Linked DNA regions of Homo sapiens. The protein of the gene in region 1 purifies or fractionates together with the protein of each later gene. This does not show direct contact. Each region holds a gene or a part of one and is shown on either strand. Other genes may lie near its edges.

Region 1 (2,703 bases):
AGCAGTGACTAAAGGGGACAAGGAACCTGCCTTCACGAAGCTAGCGGTATAGAGGGGAGAGACAGGACTCACTCACACACTCACAGGCGCTGGGAAGGAAAGGATGGATAGAGTGCCCAGGGGAGCAGGCCCAGGAACCAAATTTAGATGAGGAGGTCAGCAAAGGCCTGGTGGAGGAGTCCATGTAAGTCGAGGCCCCAAGGATGAGTCGTCAGCCGCTCGAAGCGTGGGCGGGAGAACATTCCAGGCAGGGGGAACAGTGTGAGGTGGGAAAGATCTCGGCCAGCTGCAGAGTAGGCTGCCTCTGGGCCAGAGGCCAGAGGCCAGAGGGAGGAGGTAGAGGAAGAAGCATCTAGGAGCAGGCAGGGGCCACGCCTAGCAGCTTGACAGAGGCACCCAACAAGGAGTACTGGGAACAGGAACAGACCAGGGGCTCAGGATCAGAGAACAGTGGCGGCCAGGACAGCAGCAGGGAGGATGGGGGATGAGAGCCTTAGATGAGGGCGCTGGCAATGGAGGGGCAAGAAGCAGAGACTCCAGACACAGGTGGAATCCACATGGCTGCCACTGGAATCGCCAGAGCCCCACTGGCCCCAAGCCCCTCACCTTCTTGCTCACAAGGAAGCTGGCAGCCACAGCCAGCCCGTGGGTGAAGTTATCGATGGTGTTGGCCAGCAGGTTGAGGTAGCCGCTGACCTGGGAAGGAGGGAAGGCAGGAGGCAGGGCTGAGTGGGGCTGGCCACTCAGGGCAGTACGGCTGCAGGGGCCCTGAGCAGGCCACTCACTTTGATGCTCCGGACCACGGCACCGAGGCCGGGCTCTGCAGCCGGCTGGGCCAGACAGTGGCCTCCATTGAGCGCGGCGGCAGCAGCAGTGGGGTCTTTGTTGGGGGCCTAGGGCCAGGAGAAGGAGGGAGAGGTGACATTAGATGCCCCCCACTCAGCCAGGGCAGACAGAAGGGGAGAGAGATGGAGAAAGAGAGACGGGGGCTGGGTGCAGTGGCTCATGCCTGTAATCCCAGCACTTTGGGAGCCCAAGGCAGATGGATCACCTGAGGTCAGGAGTTCGAGACCAGCCTGGCCAACATGGTGAAACCCCACCTCTACTAAAAATACAAAAATTAGCTGGGCGTGGTCCCAGCTACTTGGGAGGCTGAGGCAGAAGAATTGCTTGAACCTGGGAGGTGAAAGCTGTAGTGAGCCGAGATCGCGCCACTGCACTCCAGCCTGGGTGACAGAGCGAGACTCTTCTCAAAAAAATAATAATAATAATTGGGAGGCTGAGGTGGGTGGATCAAGAAGTCAAGAGATCGAGACCATCCTGGACAACATGGTGAAACCCCGTCTCCACTAAAAATACAAAAGTTAGCTGGGCATGGTGGCGCGCACCTGTGGTCCCAGCTACTCGGGAGGCTGAGGCAGGAGAATCGCTTGAACCCGGGAGGCAGAGGTTGCCGTGAGCCACGATCGTGCCACTGCACTTCAGCCTGGGTGACAGAGCGAGACTCCGTCTCAAAAAAAAAAAAAAAAAAAAAGATAGGAACCCCTGTTTTTTCTAGCTAGAATCCTCTGCTGCTATATCAGTTGGGTGCCCCCAAACTCAACAAACCCTCCCCAACTGCTGTCACCATCAGGCTACCAGAACAAGCTACATCAGGGGCTAATGGTGTCAGTCCCAAAGAAGGTGGCCCAACCTCCCGCAGCTCCCAGGAGAGGGCCAGGAGACCCCTCTTTTCAGGGCTCAACTCAGACCCTGGGCCTCCAGGCCCCGGGCACTACCACAGAACAGAGGCTGATATATCCAGGCCCTTGAGTGTGGGGCCCACCTGGCTGGTCCCCTCCTCCTTGCTGTCCAGGAACATCTTCTCCAACGCCAGGAAGGTCAGGATGCCAGCAATGACCCACAGCCCCAGCTGTTGCTGCTGCTGCAGGCTCTGCCCCTCACCACCTGCAGGGGGCGGCAATGCCAGGCCAGGCCAGGCCAAGCCAAGCCAGGGCCATAGGAGGGGGCCATTTGGAATGGGATCTCATCCAGGGCACCAGGGCAGTGACAAGGGTGGGTTGGGCAGCTGGGGCCCAGAACTCCCACTGGGACCAGGGCCCAGAGACCAGGACAATGACCCTCCCTCCCTCCCAGGCAAGCTCCTGCCAGAAACCCAGAATCCCTCTCCTGGTCATCCTGGCCATCCCTGGGCGTGGGCACCAGGCCCCCACTCCTGGCACTGTCTTGCCCCTGGCGTGTGGCCTCACTTACCAGGGCTGGCGCTGCACGTGTAGGCCCAGGCTTCGGGCAGCAGATGCAGAAACACATTGCCCAAGAGTCCCCCCAGGGCGAAGCTGAGCAGCTGCTTCAGGCGCCAGGCCCCAGCTACAAGGGAGAGATGCGGGGTCTGGGGGCTGACTGGCTGGAGCTCCTGGCCTGACCTTCATCCCACCCCACTCACTGGGCTCTTTCTGGGCCTGCAAGGCTGGATATGGGTGGCTGCTCTTCCTGGGTCCCCCACCTCACAGCAGAAACACCACACCCTGCCAAATGCCCACAGGGCCACCACCATGTCATGGTGAAGAGCTGACAGGTCCCAGCTCCCAACCCACTAGCTGGTGACCTTGGCAGATGACTTTGGAGACTCGGTTTCTCCATCTGTAAATTGGGTCTTATGGGAATTATTATTTTATCTTGTTTTGTTTTGAGATGGAGTCTCGC
Region 2 (3,500 bases), on another chromosome or scaffold:
CATATAGTTTTAGCTCTTGCATTTAAGTCTGTGATCCATTTTGAGTTAATTTTTGTGTGTCTTGTGAGGTAGGGGTCCACATTCACTCTTTTGCATGTGGACCTCCAGTCATCCTAGTACCATTTGTTTCTTTATCATTAGAAAATAATGTGTTAGAGGGAACTCTAAAGTCTTCTCATTCAAGCACACATTCTTCTGTGGGAAACAGTCTGCTAATAGATATGTAGATTGTTGGATCTAGGTGGAAAATTTTATCCAAACTTGTTTTACTCTAAAAGTATAAATGATCCTTACTAATAGAATTATTCACTGGCTTGGTTATTAAAGGTGAAATAATAGAATTTTAAAGTCCTTACACTTTTTGTTGGGAAAAGCTATTAATTTTAGTTTTTTTAAAATTTTAGTTTTTTTTTTAAATTTAATTTAATTAATTTATTTATTTATTTTGAGATGGAGTCCCACTCTGTCGCTCAGGCTGGAGTGCAGTGGTGCGATCTCAGCTCACTGCAACTTCTGCCTCCTGGGTTCAAGCCCCAGGTTCAAGCGATTCTCCTGCCTCAGCCTTCCGAGTAGATGGGATTACAGGCGCGTGCCACCGCGCCCAGCTGATTTTTTTTATTTTTAGTAGAGATGGGGTTTCCCCATGTTGGCTGCGCTGGTCTCAAATTCCTGACCTCAAGTGATCTACCCGCCTCAGCCTCCCAAAGTGTTGGGATTACAAGCGTGAGCCACCACACCCAGCCGAATTTTAGTTTTGACCACGCTACTTTTTTTTTTTTTTTTTTTGAGATAGAGTCCTGTTCTGTCTCCTAGGCTGGAGTGCAGTGGCACGGTCTCAGCTCACTGCAATCTTCGTCTCCTGGGTTCAAGCGATTCTCCTGCCTTAGGCCTCCTGAGTAGCTGGGATTACAGGCGTCCACCACCACACCCAGCTAATTTTTGTATTTTTAGTAGAGACAGGGTTTCACCATGTTGGCCAGGCTGGTTTCGAACTCCTGACCTCAGGTGATCTGTTCGCCTTGGCCTCCTAAAGTGCTGGGATTACAGGTGTGAGCCACCATACCTGGCCCACAGTACTTTTCTTTATGACCAGCTTGCCTATCACCAGTTGCTTAGGAGAATGACTTACCACTATTAAATAAGTAAATTCCAGGAATGGGCCCTGTGACTTTGATTTGAGGCCCATGTTTGAAACCTATTTGTTTTTTTTGTTTTCAATATCATATTAATAGATATGGCAGTTCATTTCTGATTGACAGTCACACAGGCCTCTTAATGAATCATGATTTCAGCCATTCCAGAGGATGACTGCCTCCAAAGTGAATTTCATGTACTAGTTATCAGGCCTTTGTTAACTACCCTTCCCCCAAACTTGAGAGAAATCTGTCCAGCAATTTGGTAGTAGATAGAAACTTCACTGATTTATATAGGTGAGGATTTTCCAGCATTTAGAGTAAGTCATTATTTTAGCTATTTTAGTTAAAAACATAGGGAACATGAGAGTTAATCATACTATTCAATTTACTTTTGTGTAGTTTGAAAATTTTTATAATAAGAAGTTTTAAGGAAGTGTATGGTGCCCAGGTTGTCGTACATTTTGAATTAGGATCCTAAGAGTTATCTATTTCTTTGTGATTGACTTTGAAGTTTTTCTCTCTGGTTTGCCTTCCAGATTCCACTGATCTCTGACTTTTCTCTTCAGGTAATTTATGCTGCCAGGGATGCCCAGATTTCAGTGGCTCTCTTTCTTCATCTTCTTGGATACCCTTTCTCTAGGAATTCACCTGGAGAAAAAAACGATGACCACAGTAGCTGGAGAAAAGTCTTGGAAAAATGCCAGGGTGTGGTCGACATCCCATTTCGAAGCAAAGGAATGAGCAGATTGGGAGAAGAGGTTAATGGGGAAGCAACAGAATCTCAGCAGAAGCCAAGAAATAAGAAGTCTAAGATGGATGGGATGGTGCCAGGCAACCACCAAGGGAGAGACCCCAGAAAACATAAAAGAAAGCCTCTGGGGGTGGGCTATTCTGCCAGGTAACTGAATCACTCCCTGTCTAGTAAAGAGTCAGTGGCCCAGCCTTAGCAAAGGGTTTGATGCTTCCCTGGGGTCTGGGGAGAAGGCTTGTAGTAGGGGAGCAGCAGCTCTCCCGGGGTTAATCTTGCTTTTTCTTTCCATCAGAGACATTTGGTCTCTCCTTTGCTTTATTTGTGTATTTTTCTCCTTTTCCCTTATTTTACCTTTTTATTTATTGACAGTTGGGGTGGAAATGAGGAAAGCTTAGCTTAGTTCTGTCATTGACCCTGATGTGACCTTAGGCCTTAACTTCTCCAACTGTAAATGGGGATATAATTATCATTCCTTCCTTGTTTCAGGCTAGCTGTGGAAAATAAATAACATGTAGTGCCTCATACTTTTCAGGAGAAATGCATCATCTGATTTCTTGTTCATATGTTATTTGATTATTTAGAATGACATCCAGCTCCAAGAAAATGTTACTCTCTAGCCAATGAAAAATGTCCTGTATAACTTATTCCTCTATTGTAGGAAGATGACTAATAAGTACTTTGGAGCATAAATTTGGTCCCTGTAGCAAAGTGCCTTTAGGAATTAATTGGATGATTAAATTGAAGGAAGTGTTACTGCATGTGAGTTAGAAGTAAATCCACATGGCCCTCATTACTTTGGCTTGAACTTTAAAATTTTTAATGTACTTTGTTTAATCCAGTGATTTGGCAGTTTTCTTGTTGCTTGGTTCTTTTTTGCATTCACAGCAGAGCTGTGTGTAAACCACTTGACACACTCCCTAATGTCCTAGTCCATAAGTGTAAAAACTAGAGGCATAAACTCATTCATTTTTAGTTCTGTTTCCTAGCCCAGTGCAGGTGAGGATTAAACATGGTTTCTCACTCTGTTTTTTCCATAGTGGTGTGTTTGACCTTAGTGTTGAGAATAGTTTTGAGTCACTCAGAAGAGAGCATGGGAAGGCAACAGACATTTTGACCCACAGTTAGCTTCCGGTTTGAGATTTCTCTTTCCTTTCCCTGCAGAAAATCACCTCTTTATGATAACTGCTTTCTCCATGCTCCTGATGGACAGCCCCTCTGCACTTGTGATAGAAGAAAAGCTCAGTGGTACCTGGACAAAGGCATTGGTGGTATGAGATTCAGCTGTCCTTGTTTATCTCTAATTAGGTGCATTGGATGCTGGCAGGAGTGGGGAGTGAGATAAGGAAGAGGGAGGGATAGAAGAAGGCAGAGAGACCGTGAGATGCATGGGACTGGGTAGGCACAACCCAGAAATCATGTTCTCTGCCAGGCCATAGCAGAGAACAGTGAAGGTAGTGCTGCTTCTTGGGTGTGGTGGTGGGGGCAGGGGGAGCAGTCAAACACTGATGTCTCTTCTCTTAAGAGCTGGTGAGTGAAGAGCCCTTTGTGGTGAAGCTACGGTTTGAACCTGCAGGAAGGCCCGAATCTCCTGGAGACTATTACTTGATGGTTAA

Evidence for each region. Proteins that work in one complex are often made in the same cells at the same time.
Region 2: the proteins of SLC39A13 (region 1) and EXD2 purify together in Homo sapiens (affinity purification with mass spectrometry; one large-scale study listed by BioGRID and IntAct). This does not show direct contact.

What each region holds. Positions count from the first base shown.
Region 1 is NC_000011.10:47,411,590-47,414,292, reverse strand, and holds part of SLC39A13 (zinc transporter ZIP13 isoform a precursor), read right to left. Parts: intron 2,368-2,703; coding exon 2,254-2,367; intron 1,948-2,253; coding exon 1,826-1,947; intron 894-1,825; coding exon 786-893; intron 697-785; coding exon 607-696; intron 9-606; coding exon of another isoform or gene 1-8. UniProt on the Homo sapiens protein: Functions as a zinc transporter transporting Zn(2+) from the Golgi apparatus to the cytosol and thus influences the zinc level at least in areas of the cytosol. May regulate beige adipocyte differentiation.
Region 2 is NC_000014.9:69,232,998-69,236,497, forward strand, and holds part of EXD2 (exonuclease 3'-5' domain-containing protein 2), read left to right. Parts: intron 1-1,702; coding exon 1,703-2,034; intron 2,035-3,048; coding exon 3,049-3,155; intron 3,156-3,409; coding exon 3,410-3,500. UniProt on the Homo sapiens protein: Exonuclease that has both 3'-5' exoribonuclease and exodeoxyribonuclease activities, depending on the divalent metal cation used as cofactor.